2 separate regions of the Homo sapiens genome follow, and region 1 is linked to region 2. Evidence: fine-mapped expression QTL. Tissue or cell type: monocytes after LPS. Region 2 holds a variant in brackets; the other region holds the start of a gene. All regions are shown on one strand. Distances are from middle to middle.

Region 1 (8,111 bases), 690 kb before region 2:
GTGTGTGATGTTCCCCTCCTTGTGTCCATGTATTCTCGTTGTTCAACTCCCACTTATGAGCGAGAACATGCAGTGTTTTGTTTTCTGTTCCTGTGTTAGTTTGCTGAGAATGATGGTTTCCAGCTTTATCCATGTCCCTGCAAAGGACATGAACTTATCCTTTTTTACAGCTGTGTAGTGTTCTGTGGTATATATGTGCCACATTTTCTTTATCCAGTCTACCATTGATGGGTATTTGGGTTGGTTCCAAGTCTTTGCTATTGTGAACAGTGCTGCAATAAACATATGCATGCATGTGTCTTTATAGTAAAATGATTTATGATCCTTTGGTATATACCCAGTAATGGGATTGGTGGGTCAAATGGTATTTCTGGTTCTAGATCCTTGAGGAATCACCACACTGTCTTCCACAATGGTTGAACTAATTTATACTCCCACCAACAGTGTAAAAGAGTTCCCCTTTCTCCACATCCTCTCCAGCATCTGTTGTTTCCTGACTTTTTAATGATCACCATTCTAACTGGCGTTGTGCGGTTTTGAGAATAGTTCCAAAAGAGGAATTCCTAAAATAATTTTAGCCATGTGTATTCAGAAAGAAGTATGTGAATCGACATGATTTTCTTAGGTGTATAAGATATTGGTTTCCTTACATTAAAATTAATAGTGCTGCTTTCACCACACTTAATATCTCTGTAGCCGAGACCTGACTTAAACCACTTAAAATCCTGCCATATCACCTCTTAGATTACAATCAGCTTACACTTTAAGGACTTTACTACATTAACCTCATCAGCTATCTTAGCAATGAGAAAGGAAAACTATTAATCTTAAACTGATGTGACTCTCTTTTGCCATTTACTCATATAGTTTTCAAATCACAGACCTACACAGGGAAATATTTTTCTGTTCACTGGTGAGGAGTCAGAGACCAGAGATGTTCACACTGAATGTGATGATTTCTAAGCTACTTTCTAGCTCTGACTTCTGTGACTTCATAATTCATATTTGCTCTCCCAGTAAATATACCCATAGTAGATGAAAAATAAGCTATACTGAAACTTAAGAATTGATCATGGATCTATGCAATGATCATCAACAAAGTTTTCCCAGGTAAATCAAGTTGATGTTTACTAGTGAATTTTTCACAAGTTGTTTCTTTACCTGTTACGATTATTACAGGGGATCCAGTTTACTTCAGGGTCTGGGATGTCCTCCAAATATGGGTAGAGAGAGTCCCTGTTGAAGTTCCAGCCATAAATAGCATCTTCTGGAGTCACAATAATATGCGCACCCTGTTAAAAATGCAACTTAATCCAAAGGGGGGCCTGCAAGAGGAGCTGAGGAGCTGAGTGGCTGAGTAACAACTATTTGGGCTTCCCCCACACCCCTTAAATCTTATTTTGTTTTCTATATTTTTATAATTTATTTTCTTTTCCAAAGCATTTTAATTTCCTTTTTTTTCAGTGCACTGTCACTTCTTTTTCTTTTTCTTTTCTTTTCTTTATTTCTAATTTTAGATTCAAAGGGTACAAATGCAGGTTTGTTGCATGGATATGTTACATAATGGTGAGGTTTGGGCTTCTAGTCAAGCATTTTTTTTTCTCTCTTTTTTTTTTTTTTCAGATGGAGTTTCGCTCTGCTGCCCAGGCTGGAGTGCAATGGCTAGATCTCGGCTTACCACAATCTCCACCTCCCGGGTTCAAGCGATTCTCCCGCCTCAGCCTCATAAGTAGCTAGGATCACAGGCATCTGCCACCACGCCTGGCTAATTTTTGTATTTTTAGTAGAGATGGGGTTTCTCCATATTGGTCAGGATGGTCTTGAACTCCCAACCTCAGGTGATCCGCCTGCTTCAGCCTCCCAAAGTGTTGGAATTACAGACATGAGCCACCGCACCTGGCTTAGTCAAGCATTTTAATTTTCTAATCCTGCCATTGTTGTTTCCTATGGCAGTCGTTAACTATAAACCTAGCTTATCCTGGAACCAAGCCTCTCCTTGAACTTTCGCTGATGACTGTGCCTGTGTCAAGACTGATTAATAACTTAAATATTCTGTTTATTTCCTCCTCTGCCCTAGCTTTCCCCTGCAAACATGATTCCTGCTTCTCAGAAAAAGAGGAGCCACAAACTGGTTACTTGAACTGTCCCATGCCTACAAGTACTGCCTGAGCTAACCTGGGCACCTTCCAATTAGAGAGTCACCTTAAAAAGCTCTGTGACCTTCAAGGAAATAGTTGGACTAAGGATGAAAAAGAACATCAGAACTCCTGATAACCTTTTAAATATTAGTATATATAAGAATATAGGGCAGTCACGGTAGCTCATGCCTGTAATCCCAGCACTTTGGGAGCCCAAGGCAGGTGGATCACCTGAGGTCAGGAGTTCAAGTACAGCGTGGGCAACATGGCAAAATCCCATCTCTACAAAAAATACAAAACTTAGCTGGGCACGGTGGCATGCATCTGTGGTCCCAGCTACTCTGGAGACTGTAGTGGGAGAATCACCTGAGCCCGGGAAGTCAAGGCTGCAGTGAGACGTGATCACACCACTATACTCCATCCTGGGTGACAGAGTGAGACCTTAACTCAACAACACAAAAGAATATATATTTATAGATATATGTAATACACATTTATCCATGACTTTTATCACACTTCATGTATTCCTGGTCTACACCTAATCGATCAATAGCTTTTAAAATAATATTTGTGTAAACCACAATTTATACTGTATGATTAACTTCAAACTGAAACCTTCACTAAACTTAAGGACTCACAATGCATTACATATACTTTTATCTTGTAATTAGAATGAAGTGTGAAGTATATAATGCATGCTGGCAAGGAATTGAAAACTTAAATTTGTTTTCAGATTATAAATTTATTCGAAAACCTGCAAAGCCTTAATAGCACATGAGTACATGAAGGCCACTAATACTCTGAAAATAGCACCTAGTCCCTGACCCATTTATCCTCCATCCTCCATCTGTACCAGAAAAGGGGAACAAAGATGTTGAATTTATGGCCAGTTCCTCAAAGGTCTGCTGCTTCTTGATAATGAGCAAATTGTTCTTTTCTTAACTTTGTTCTTACTTTTAGGGAAGTCCTTGCTCTAATTTTGAGAGGAAAGTAGAATTCTAACTGTAAAATAAAGGTTCTTGGCTACTCTGATACATATATCATCTAAAAGTGTAACTGACCCTGACAGTGGCCCTGTCTCCTAGGACCCCCTCCTTTCTCATAGAATCCAGTACACTGGAGAGATGGTAGAGATGGTACCTGATCTGCTGCTGATGTGATCGCTCCTTCCAAAATGTCCAGATTCCGATTCATTAATGCCAAAGCCTCCTCACGAGACACTGGTGTTAGGGTGGCATTGGGCAATATCGCTGCATGCTCATAAACAGCTGCAGTGAAAGTGTCCTGGCAGCTGGCTCTTGAGACATAGAAAAGCAAAATTGCCACGTAAGCTGGCAACTGAGTAGTCATGCTGAAGTCCAATGAGTGCTGAAAAACAGAGCATGTCCTGGTATTTATAGAAAGAAGACACGTGGTGTCCAGAACTTAGTACCTTAAACTACGGAAGTTAATTAAGAAAACGCTATGATTTCATAGCATTGTTACATAACAAAAGACCCTACCTTATTGCAGTAATTTGTGAAGATTAACTCAAGAACTCTATGTACATTAGTTCGCTAGGGCTGCCTAACAAAATACAATAAACTGGGTGGTGTAAAAAATAAAAAATTTATTGCTTTGCAGTTCTGGAGGGTGGGAGTCCCAGATGAAGGTGTCAGCAGAGTTGGTTCCTCCTGAGGGCGGTGAAGGAAAGATGTGTTCCAGGCCTCTCTCCTTGACCCATAGATGGCTGCCTTCTCCCTGTGTCTCTTCATATGCTATTCTCCCCATGTGTGTGCCTGTATCCAAGTTTTCCCTTTTTGTGAGGACACCACTCTAATCTTTAACACAGGGAAAGGGAAAATCCCAGCTCTAGCTTTTTTTGTCATCGTTGTTGTTTGTTTATTGTTGTTGTTGTTTGAGATGGAGTTTCACTCTTGTCACCCAGGCTAGAGTGCAGTGGCGAAATCTCGGCTCACTGCAACCTCCGCCTCTCGGGTTCATGTGATTCTCCTGCCTCAGCCTCCCAAGTAGCTGGGATTACAGGCGCCCGCCACCACGCCAGGCTAATTTTTTGTATTTTTAGTAGAGATAGGGTTTCGCCGTGTTGGGCAGGCTGGTCTCAAATTGCTGACCTCAGGTGATCCACCTGCTTTGTTTTTATGCCAAATAAGGGCAGAAGAAAAAAGCCAACTGAAGGTCATAAACCCAGGGGTACAGGCTCACTGAAAGACTGAGACTCAATCATAGGACCAATTCGATTTAGTGCCCACTGTACTCCAGTATAACTTCATCTTAACTAATTAGATCTGAAATGACCCCTTTTCCAAAAAAGTTACATTCTAAGATACTGACAGTTAGGACTTCAACATATAAATTTTTGGAATTCATATATTTTGGAATGTCAACACAAGACATTCAAATAATTTTAAAACTTTATTATTATTTTCATGTGAATATTTCAGCTCTACACTTTGATTTACTTTATTTTCCTCAAAATGGGGAAGCCAGGACAAAGAGGAATACAAAAGAGTTACTCATTTTCTATTGCTATATAACAAATTATCCCCAAATTCAGCAGCTTCAAAAAGCAAAAATACATCATCTCCCACTTTCTCTGGGTCAGGAATCCAGGGGCAGTTTAGCTGGTGCCTCTGGCCCAAGGTCTCTTTCACAAGGCTGCAGTCAAGCAGCTGCCAGGGCTAGCTATATCAAGGCTTGACTCCAGGAGGATTCACTTCCGAGCTCCAAGCTCCCTCATGTGGCTGACGGCAGGGATCAAGACCTCATTGGTTGTTGCCCAGAGACATGAGTTCCTAGTGATGCAAACCTCACCATAGGGCAGCCCGCATTATGGTATCTGGATTCCCTTAGAGCCAGACAGCAAGTGAACCCACTGGAGATGGAAGCCACGGATGCTTCGTAATGTAATTGGGGAAGCAACACCTCATCGCTTTTGTTGTATTCTATCCAATAAAGCATTAGGAACCATCTTTGAAGCTGCTTATCACAGAGGCAACAGAGGTGTATAAAGAATCAGAGCAAAAAAAAGAAAAAATGAGCTGGGGAGCGAGATCCAGAGAGAGGAGAGGGAAATTATATAAAATAGAAAAACTGTTCATAGATTTTGATATTGAGTAAGCTGGCAAATTTTGTTTCAGTTGTGCATTAAGTATAATATTTACAGAATTAGTGTTTATGTTTTTCCATTTTATTTTTAGATCTATTTGTCTTTGAATGGTATTTTTATAGTTCAATCTGCAAACAGGCATATCTAATTTTTTACTTTAGTAACTATAATGCATTTATTCTGCAATTGCCAAGGTAACCCAGGGGTTGTGGTTGGCTGGTTCTCCTGAGTTTCCGGTAAACACCAGCTTCTCTAACTGCTTGCTGACCTCTTAGGGCCTTTCCATGCCCAGGTGGGTGGGAATACCACATATTTCACAAAAAGATGTCATTATTATGTAACAATTTGTAAAAGGAAGCACTGAAATAAAAGTTAAAACTGAGATGAGTTGGCAAGAGGTTAAAAAATTACTTCTTGACCTTCTTAGATTAAAAATATTAAACCTCCCGTGGAGTTTCTAGTCCAACTCATAAAGAGCTTGGCAGTCATTTTTCCCATGCTCACACCAAGAAAAAAGCTAAACAAATGAAAATCGACAACTTTTCTAGGATGCATCAGAGAATTGAGATCACAGGATAAACTGCGGTCCTCAGAACTGCAGAGATAGGCAGATACAGAGGTTAAGAGTGTACTGCGAGCAGAGTCCTCTGCGGCTGGCGCCAGTACCGTGGGTTCACTTGAACTGTAATTGACGAATTGGTGGAGGCTCAGGGTGGACAACCTTGAGAGTTCTGGTCTGTTCTTCTTAACAAAAGCCTGCCCTCAAAGTAAAGTATTTTACCAGAGCCTAACCTACCTAGGGGAAGGAAAAATGCCAACCCCAGCCACTCTAATCTTTAACTTGGGGAAAGGGAAAATCTCATCTCTAGCTTGTTTTTATGCCAACTAATGGCAGAAGAAAAAAGCCAAGTGAAGTTCATAAACCCAGGGGTACAGGCTCACTAAAAGACTGAGACTAAATCATAGGACCAATAACCTTGTCCCTCCTCCAGCATGTCACTGCCACATGAATCTACCCTTTCTGGCCTACTTAGCATGTACTAGCTGAGAGCAAATCTTCAGATGAAATAATGCAGTTCGGCCAGGCGCGGTGGCTCATGCCTATAATCCCAGCACTTTGTGAGGCCGAGACGGGAGGATCACCAAAGGTCAGGAGTTTGAGATGAGCCTGACCAACATGGAGAAACCCTGTCTCTACTAAAAATACAAAAATTAGCTGGGCATGGAAGGGAGCAGTGTGGGGGGCGGGGGCGCCTATAATCCAGATACTCGGGAGGCTGAAGCAGGAAAATTGCTTGAACCCGGGAGGCGGAGGTTGCCTCGAGCCGAGATTGCGCCATTGCACTCCAGCTTGGTGATAGAGTGAGACTCCGTCTCAAAAAAAAGAAAGAAAGAAAGAAAGAAATAGAAATAGAAACAGTGCAGTTCTTGCAGTAGAGTATCATCAGCAGGACATGGAACTGGGAGGCACCAGCAGCCTCTACTACAACTCCTAGGCTGGTTCTCTGGATCCTTAACCCTACTGCTACAGCCAGCCAAGGTCCCCAAATGCAGCCCTTCTGCTCACACAAAGTAGAAACTGGGAGAATTGTCTCCAAGGAAATGACTTTGAGTGTAGACAAAAGCCCTAATTGATACCTCCAGACTCCTCCAACCAAACTTGCATAGATGGAGCAGATTGCCTTTTGCAAGGAAAACATGACATCGCACTGTCCAGAATAGGGCAAGACCCACAGTATTCTGGATTTTGCTAGCACAGCAGTGATCACCCCACCCCAGGCAGCAGGTCCCCAGAGGAACTCAGAAGCAAGTCCTGCCCAGCTTACGCAGAGAGAACCAGAAACAAGGGAAAAGGAGGGAAGAGCAAGGACTGAGTGGAGTGGGCACTGCCTCTTGCACTTCACCTGGTGAACTCTGAAAAGCCATGTGCACAGCATGTAAAAGTGTGTCCATATACTTGTGTCTGATAAAAGATTGATTGGCAGTCGGCCTCTGCATTGCTACTCAAAATATACGCCCATATTTTAATATTTAGTGGCTACAACACAATGTCAATTCTTTTGTTGACATTAATCTGGTTTTAGGAGAAACAATCCATTTTTCCTCTGGTCTCATAGCACAACAACTAACACAAAAGACTGGTTACTCCCAAGTAGGTGGAGATTTCTCCCCACTAGAAAGCAAGCAATTGACTCTGCATCAGACATCAGCTGGCTATCTTCCAGTTCAATCCAAATACTATTTATCCAAAGATAGCATCAGATCCCACATGTTAAGGGCTCAGTCCCACAAAACCGCCCCCTCCTTCCCACCAGTAACAAGTCTGGGCTTCCAGATCTTCCGACCAAATGGCTCTGGGTTGGGGTTTCCATGACCCCTTTTTTTTTTAGTTCAATTAGTTTGCTAGAGTGGCTCACAGAACTCAGGGAAACACTTACCTTTAGTGGCTTATTGTAAAGGATATTACAAAGGATACAAATGAAGAGGTGCATAGAGCAAGGTATGGGGGAAGGACTGGAGAGCCTTCCACGCACCCCTAGGTGTGCCACCCTCCAGGAACCCTCCACGTGTTCAGCTGTAAGGAAACTCTCCGAACCCTGTCCTTTTGGGTTTTTATGGAAGCTTCATTACATAGTCACGATTGACAACCATGTAGAAATGCGATTGGACAAAAAGGTTATGATCCCATACTAACAGTTTGAGTGGGGAAACCCAGTAAAGCTTGTCTGTTCAGGTTTGTCTTGACATCTCTTTATAGCATTTCTTCCTCTAGGGTATGGGGTGGGACCCTCTCTGAAATGAGGGTCTTTTGAGCCACAATCAGATTATAGTCCTGCCTTAGGTAGGTAAAGGGAGGACAGGGT
Region 2 (8,111 bases):
ATGGAGTTTCGCCTTTGTTACCCAGGCTGGAGTGCAATGGCATGATTTTGGCTCACCACAACCTCTGCCCCCAGAGTTCAAGCAATTCTCCTGCCTCAGCCTCACGAGTACGTGGGATTACAGTTGTGCGTGTGCCACCACACCTGGGTAATTTTGTAGTTTTAGTAGAGATGGGGTTTCTCCATGTTGGTCAGGCTGGTCTCAAACTCCCGACCTCAGGTGATCCACCCGCCTCAGCCTCCCAAAGTGCTAAGATTACAGGCGTGAGCCACTGTGCCCGGCCTCCTGTCATGTATTTTTAACAGGAGTGTCTCAGGAATTTAAGCCCTTTATTTGGACTGACTCCCCTGTTCACTTATTTTTCTCAGTTCAGTGAGTGTTGCCAATAAGAGAGAGATTAGACAAAAAAGACAAAGCACATCATCTCTTTTCTAATGTGGATGTTACTCAGTGATGAGGGGAGAGCAGATAAGATCCCCAGTTACCAAAGCGATTAATAACATCATTCTGTCCATTCACACTCATTCAGCCAGTGTTTATTGAAGAGCTTTGTTTGTCTCTGTCACTGTGATCCTACAGGAAAGACAATACCTCCTCTTAACCAAGGTTGACAAGTAGCTACTCCTAGTTTAATAATTTTTGTAAAACTTTCAGAGCTGTTTTTTTTTTCGTATTACAAATTTACTACATTGGATCTACTACACTGTAGATTCTTCAGACAGAAAATACATATGGTCATGCTAAATAAAACAAAAATAATCTCTAGTTTCAGCACCCACAGTCTTCTAGTCATAGAGAGCAATTCCAGTTGTTGGCTTGAATAGTAAAGCTTTTTTCTAACACAAAACATTTGAGACTAGTAACTTCCTATGCATTTAGTTATCAGTTAATGTAAGTCTGTGTGTAATAAATACGACTTTCATTGAGTTTCGGGATGTCCTTCGTGTTCACGTGTAGCCCTGCCTCATCACCCACCTTAAAGTGGATTGCTTGTATCCAGTTTCTAGTCTCCTTGGCTCTTCGCATGAGGAGAGAGAGAAATGGGAAACCCTAATTCCCTGTTCACTTGATTCAACATCTACGATTTCATTCTATTTTAAAACTCTACCCTGGCAGTACCCTGCTTACTCATTCGTAGCTGCCTTCAGACATGCTATTCTCTGCTTGAACATAGTCGCTCTTAGTTCCTCAACTTTTATTTTCTCACTTAAGAGCCTGCTTCACTGAGAATCATTTCCTAGTGTCATGATTCTGAGGTGCCTTTTCCATCCACTCCTTCAGGCTCCTGTGCTCACCATGCCATGGCCTCAACACACTGTGCTAGAATATTGTTTTACCCCCTGACTCCCTAACTGGACTTTGAGTTGGTAGGTAGCATTTTATCTGTCTTCCAAGGATCTTAGCCATCTCCTGGCACATGGAAGTGGTCATAAAATATCTATTGGATATATGAATGAATAAATGGACTGACATCTTGTGGCAACATCCTTTCCCCCAGTAAAAACCAGAATGGAATATACTTCTTATAGTCCAGTGGTTCTGACTGAATAACATATTTATTTTGGTAGCAGAAAATGCCATTGTTTGGGAAAACTCAAGGCCATCTACTAACTTCTTTATTCTTGCATTGTCGTGATGATGTGACTGATTTCCACAGATCTCATAAAAATCATTCTCGGTATTCTATATTCTATTTCCTATGTATGAAAGGTGAATACTCTTGAGTCATTAATTCAACAAATTAATTCAACAGTTATTTATTGAATGTCAATTATGTTCCAGGCACAATTTTAGGTGGGGCTACAGCAAAGTATAAAACAGACAAAAGTTTCTCCTTTGGGGTTTACATTCCAGTGGAGAGAGGCAAGCAATAATAAAGATTAATATACAAAACAGTATATTAGAGGTGGTAAGTGCAATGGAGAAAAAGCAGGAAAAGAAGAGAGAGAATGAATGGGGGGAAGGGGGTGACAATTTTGCATTGCCTGGCCAGGGAAGGCCTTAGTGAGAGCTGGGTCTCACTAAGGAGGAAATGAGGGCTGGGTCATGCAGCTGTCTGGGAGAAGAGTCCCAGGAAGAGAGAACAGCATGTGCAAAGGTCCTGAGGTGAGAGCATGTCTGTTGTATTTTAGGAACTGTGTAGTCAACTGGAGAGCAGAGAGAATGCTGCTAAATTCTATTATCTATCTATCTACCTACCTACCTACCTACCTATCTTCTATCTATCTATTTAGTAACATTGTATCAGATTACTTTATATATATATTGTATAGGCTGTCAAACTTCATTCATATTTTTATTTACTAATTGACCAGGCAGTTATTTACCACCTACCATGGGCCAGGTTCTATCTTAGGTATTTTAAGGAAAGTAAAATCTATTAGATATAGTTCTTGCCCAAAAGAAGTTTACGAAATAATCAGAGATAAGACACATACAGGACTCATGACACGAGATGAGCTCTCATAAGGAAATGACTACTCATTGGCCAGAGAAACAGCTAGAGAATGACATCTGGGCTTCTTGGAAGAGATGGCATCAAACTGCACCTTGAGAGGCATACAATGCCAACGGCACATCATATGCAATGGTGTAAACGGGGGCACACCCACTGAGTCACTGGCAGTGCAGGATCTGTGAAGGCAGGAGTGATAGGTAAGGTCAAAAGGAAAGCTTTGGTCAGCATTTGAAAGCCTTTGAATGAGTATATATTTTGTGAATTCTCTTCATTAAAAATGTTCTAAGATTTGTCATGATGTTCAGTGCCTTGGTCTTCATAATTCTGTGTTGCCCTCACCTAATTGCCAGCATATTTTAGTTAAATTCAATTAGATATTTCAGTTAGCTATATACATTTTTCAGATTGAAAGCTGTTAACAGGTTGTATAAAACCTGTTTCTTATACTTTAACAAAATAATTTCCAAGTGTACTATGCGATTTTTAATTCTAGAAGGTTTTCTATTAAAATGAAAATGAAATGTATGAAATCTGTCTCTTATTATTTCAGTCTTCTATAGGTTTTCGAGTGTAAATTAGGGAGAAATGCAGAATAATTTAAAATTAAAGTTACTTATAGAGAAAGCTGAATAGAAAAATAATGTGTATATAGCATTTGTTTTTCTAGAATAAAGTAAGCACTTATTTAGCTTTTAGGTTTCAACTATATTGTCTTTCTCTTGAGCAGATTTTACATAGAGCTGGTATGACATATCTCAGTGTAATACATAATATATTACTAATGTCTTTAAATTCAGAAGATAAGAAAAAACTTTGAGATCAAGTTTTTAATTTGGGAAAGGTCTAATTAAACTCCTTACATTGGGATATTTGAGTTAATTGTTAAAGTGCTAATTCAGTTTATCAACCACTTGTTATCACATAGTTTTATCAACCTACACTGTGAAATAAAGGAGTCTAGGGTTTTTTTTTTTTTTTTTTGGAAGGAAACGTATTTATCGAAAGAGATTTATTTAGATTATTCTACATATTCTCTGGGAATTTGTAGTGTTTCTTAAAGTTGGACTAAATGTTGAATGGGAGGATAGGAGGAGAAGGCGATGGACCCTACAGGTGCAAACTCTTTCCAAATCACCAGGGCTTTGGCTGTTACTCACTCACCCCCGCCTTCCTTGCTCTTGGAGCCTTCAGATTTTTCCCCAGTAGCTTCACCTTACAGCAAGCTTAGCAGAAGCAGTTCCACAGCATGCCAACCCCCCTCACTTTTGAATAATCCAGAGACTCCCTGTGCCACAGATAACATGCAATCATAAATCTTCTCAGCTTCAGCAGTTTTCGTCTTCTAAATTCAATTAAGTTGAGCCCAGTAAGAATTTGTGGATCAAACAGTGAGCTCTATATAGATTCAAATTCAACTTAGGGTTCTGATGTTTGTTACTAATTTTCAGGAAAAAAAAATAAAAGAAAAATACTGCTGCTATTTTCTAAAGCTTCCTTATAAAGGTATTTCTTATTGAAACCAACTCATATTTCTCAAATTCCTAGACCACTATCTGTCATGCAATTTGAGTCTGTTTTCCAAATGGTAGAGTGCCAGAGAATCAAAAGCTGCTTGTTTTGCTTGCCTGATTTTCTTTAGCATTCTTTGGAGGATTTAAAGTATGGGGGGAAGAAAAGGAAACCTGACTTACATTAAGAGCTGAACATGAAAAAGGGATTAGGCAAAGCTTTAACTTTTTCATTATGCAAACTTTCCTGAACTATAATACATATCTTTATAGAGTTTTATTAATTGTTGGGGCTGCAATTTGGATTTTGCTAAAAAGTATTTACTACTAAAAACTTCAAGGTTGTTACTAAACACATCAATCATTTTACATTTGGCCCCTTTGCATGGTGAACAGACCGTCCTTCCTCCATCTTTTGTTGGGGAATACCTGGCTGAAGGTCTCAGTGAAAAGCTAGGAAGATACTCCTC[C/A]TCTGAGGGAGACATCTGGCTTCTTGGCTGATTCCATGCACACTTTTGTTAATGGGCTCAGATTCCCCAGAATTCTTTTATGTGGTTACATTGTAGATGGACTGTCTGCATAGTCTTGTCCTCTTGAATGATTTATGTAGAGGTTAAAAATACATATATATTTGGTCTGGTTCTTAGAATCTACGCATAAGATTAAATGAATCTCAGCAAGTTCAGTTTTGGAAAAAAAAATTAAATTTATTATTACAAAGGCAATCTAGTAGAGGATGTAGATTCTCGAGCCAGAATGCTTAATTTGAAACATGGATTTGCCACTTGCTAGCTATACAGTGTTGGACAAGTTATTTAATCTCTTTGTGCCTTCTTGGTTTCCCTAACCACATACAGGATGATAATAACAATATCTACCTCATATGTTTCCATGAGGTTTAAATGGTTTACACTGTCAAAGCTTTTAGGACAGTGCCTGGCGCGACTAAGTACTCAGTGAGTGTTAGTCATGATGTCATGATTATTCATGGTATTCACCAGACAAGAATATGTTCTCATTTGTGTATGATTTAGGATTAAATTTGGGACTAATATTGAGTGGTTCAATGCTAATTTTGATAAGGCTCATGGAGGTGTGTGGTCACTTTTAGTGGAGAGTAACTTTAATTCCTTTTTACATAGTGAAAAAAAGAGTTCACCTTCCACTCACTAGACTTGATTTTGCAGACTCCCTGTTCTGATCTGGATTTTATTATGAGTGAAATGAAGTTAGTGACTCAGTGGTCCATAGGTCATTAGTCTGTAGCTGCTCTGTTACATGGAAAAGTCCTGAATGACAAAGGTCTACTCAAGGGTGGGTTGGCAAGGTAATTTAGAAACCTGTATTATTCCCAACCAAAATTGGAGCATAAAACCTTCTATTCACTATCCAAAAAGGAAGTGAAATCAGCCCCACATAGAGATGTATGCACTCCCATGTTTATTGCAGCGTTATTCACAATAACCAAGATATGGAAAACAGTTGAAGTGTTCATAGATGGTTGAATGGATAAAGAAATTGCAAAATATATACACACAAAAAAAGAAGTGTTATTCAGCCTTAAAAAGGAGATTATGCCATTTGTGACAACATGGATGAACCTGGAGGACATTATGCTAGGTGAATATGGCAGACGCAAAAAGAAAAATACTGCATGATCTCACTTATATGTGGAATACACGTACTTTCTATAGATAGATAGAAATTGTATATAATTTCTGTTCCCTTCCTCAGGGTAATTTAAATGGATATTTTAAAATAGAGGGCTATTAAGCTGTTGAAACATTTCAAATACAACTATAACCTATGTATATCTCTATATGTGGAATCTAAAAATAAAAAAGTCAAATACATAGAAACAGAGGGTAGAATGGTAGTTACCAGAGATGGGAGGAGGGATCAGGAGGTGTGGATCAAAGTTTACAAAGTTACAGTTATGTACGATGAATAACTCTAGAAATCTAAAGCACTGGTGTGAAGATTATAGTCAATAATACTGTAATGTATACCAGAAATTTATTAAGAGTATGGATGTTAGAAAATCTTTCACAAAAAAGAAAGGTGACTGTGAAAGAAATGATATGTTGATTGTCTTATCATTTTACTAAGTATATGTGTATGAAAACATATGTTGTACACCTTAAATATATGTCCTCCCCCCATATAAAATTTCTGTTCCCTTCTTCAGAGTCATTTAAGTGGATATTTAAAAAATAGAGTTATTAAGCTTTTGAAACACTTCAAATACGTCAGCCTATGCATATTAAAATTTTAATGCAGCAAATTTACTAATATTTGCAAAACCAGTTTAGATAGAGATAATATATAGATATATAGTCAGATTCTGACCATGTCCTAAGTGTTCTTAGTATCTATTGATGAATAGATTTCATTAATTTAATGAGATGATAGTATACTAAAACTTGTCTAAGTAAATGGTTGGCGTCCTTGAAACTTCCTATTGAATACAACATGAGTAAAATGTTCGTGTAAAGTAAATATTTTTCAAATAGGGATGTGTTATTGGTGTTTCTTAAATATAGATTACTTGCTGCTGCTTTTTAAATTGGATATAAACTTTAAAGTGAACAGCATTGTAGGAAGTTGAAGAGGAAGAAAATATATTATTTTGAGAAGGTATTATTTAAATCTATATAAATCCAACTTAATTAAGGACATTGGATAATTACTATTAAGGTCACAAATTTATAAAAATTTACAAACTAACATGAAGTTTAACAGCTTTATTCAAGAGTAAAGTTCATGAATTGACTGAAAGAGCTCCTCCTAACCAAAAAAAAAAAAACTTCTGTATTTTTCCATAGAACTAAGGTCTTAATTCCTTCTATCAATCATGTGTTTTCCCCGTTTGCATTGAAGGCTCCCTACTCTGTCCTGCAGCAGCAGTCCCTCCTGTTGGCAGGGCTTTTCTCTCCTCCTGGGGGCTTCCTGCAGTCCACTTCAAACAGGGCTCTGGTTCCCTAGCGGGCCTGTTAAATTATTACCCTCAGGTGTTGATTCATCCTTGGCATTGTTGCATTTTACCATTTTGTAGTCTTCAGGCATGGGGGAAGGGGAAGAGAGTTGAAGAAGATCAAAGTAGCAGTACTGAAGTTGGAGCTTTAGAGGTGGGGATGAGCCCTCAGCCCCTCTGCTGTTCCTCCCTGCCCTTCCCCCGCCTGACCCCAGCCTACCCCCACCACCCCCTGACTTTCTGCCCTCTCAAGCCTAATCAGAAGACAGAGGGGGCTATGTGCTTGAACTGTTTACTTACAAGCACTTTATTTTTACTTTTGCATACAAGCAACAAACGGTTTAACACTACATGATGTTTTATTGTATAGTACAACTGTATAAACAGAAGATAACAGATGAGGACTTACTATTTTTTTGATTCGGTGGTTTTTGAACATACACTCTATTCTCTGTAAGACACTGTGGGGGAAGGTTATGATGAGCAAGAGACTCCTTGTTCCCAGGCAGTGCTGAGTGAAATAGTTAATAAATTTTTATGGAGCGGGACCCAATTATTACTTGTGTTATAGAGCACAAATATGAAACTCCATGAGAAAAGCACATCAAAGGGAAACACCAGCATGGTTTTTAAATATCTGTAATCAGTAAAGTATTGCATGTTCTTTTTAGAAAATCAGAAAATACTCAATTTATTAAACTAAAAACACAGTCACTCTACCCAGAGTTAACCACACTTTGGCACATTTAATTTTCCATATATGTGTGTGTGTGTATCTGTATATCTGTCTATCTATATATATATATATTCGGTCTTTTTTTAATTTTTGTTTCATAAAATGTATGACTCAGTCTATCTTGCTTTTTAAAAACTCTACATTATCTTATGAATATTTCACCATAGAATTGAAAGTTATTTGCATAATATATCAGAGCACATAATAATTTATGTATGTAATCATTTTCTTATTTGGGGATATTTCTGTTCCTTTCAGAATTTGTCCTCTTATAAATAATTCATTGAATATATTTGTGCATAAATCTTCTCATATTCCTGATTTTCTTAGAGTGAACTTCTAGAAATGCAATTTCAGGTCAAAGGTCATGCATATTTTAAAGCTCCTGAACATTTTGCCAGATAGCATTCCATCAAGCTTATACCATTGAAAAGT

What was found. PIP is the estimated chance that this variant, and not a neighbour inherited with it, causes the effect.
Region 1: VNN1 starts here. The variant in region 2 is fine-mapped to the expression of VNN1 in monocytes after LPS (Quach 2016, PIP 0.95).

What each region holds. Positions count from the first base shown.
Region 1 is chr6:132,710,548-132,718,658 of GRCh38, forward strand. It overlaps VNN1 (vanin 1), which reads right to left and starts at 3,508. Exons shown (of 7, transcript NM_004666.3): 1 at 3,279-3,508; 2 at 1,162-1,292. The coding sequence starts at 3,488.
Region 2 is chr6:133,403,831-133,411,941 of GRCh38, forward strand. The region is part of intron 3 of EYA4 (EYA transcriptional coactivator and phosphatase 4); the gene reads left to right. Among named protein-coding and RNA genes, the nearest start is that of EYA4-AS2, 49 kb to the right of the region's middle. RefSeq lists an enhancer at 6,716-7,248. The variant C/A (reference allele first, on the strand shown) is at 4,437.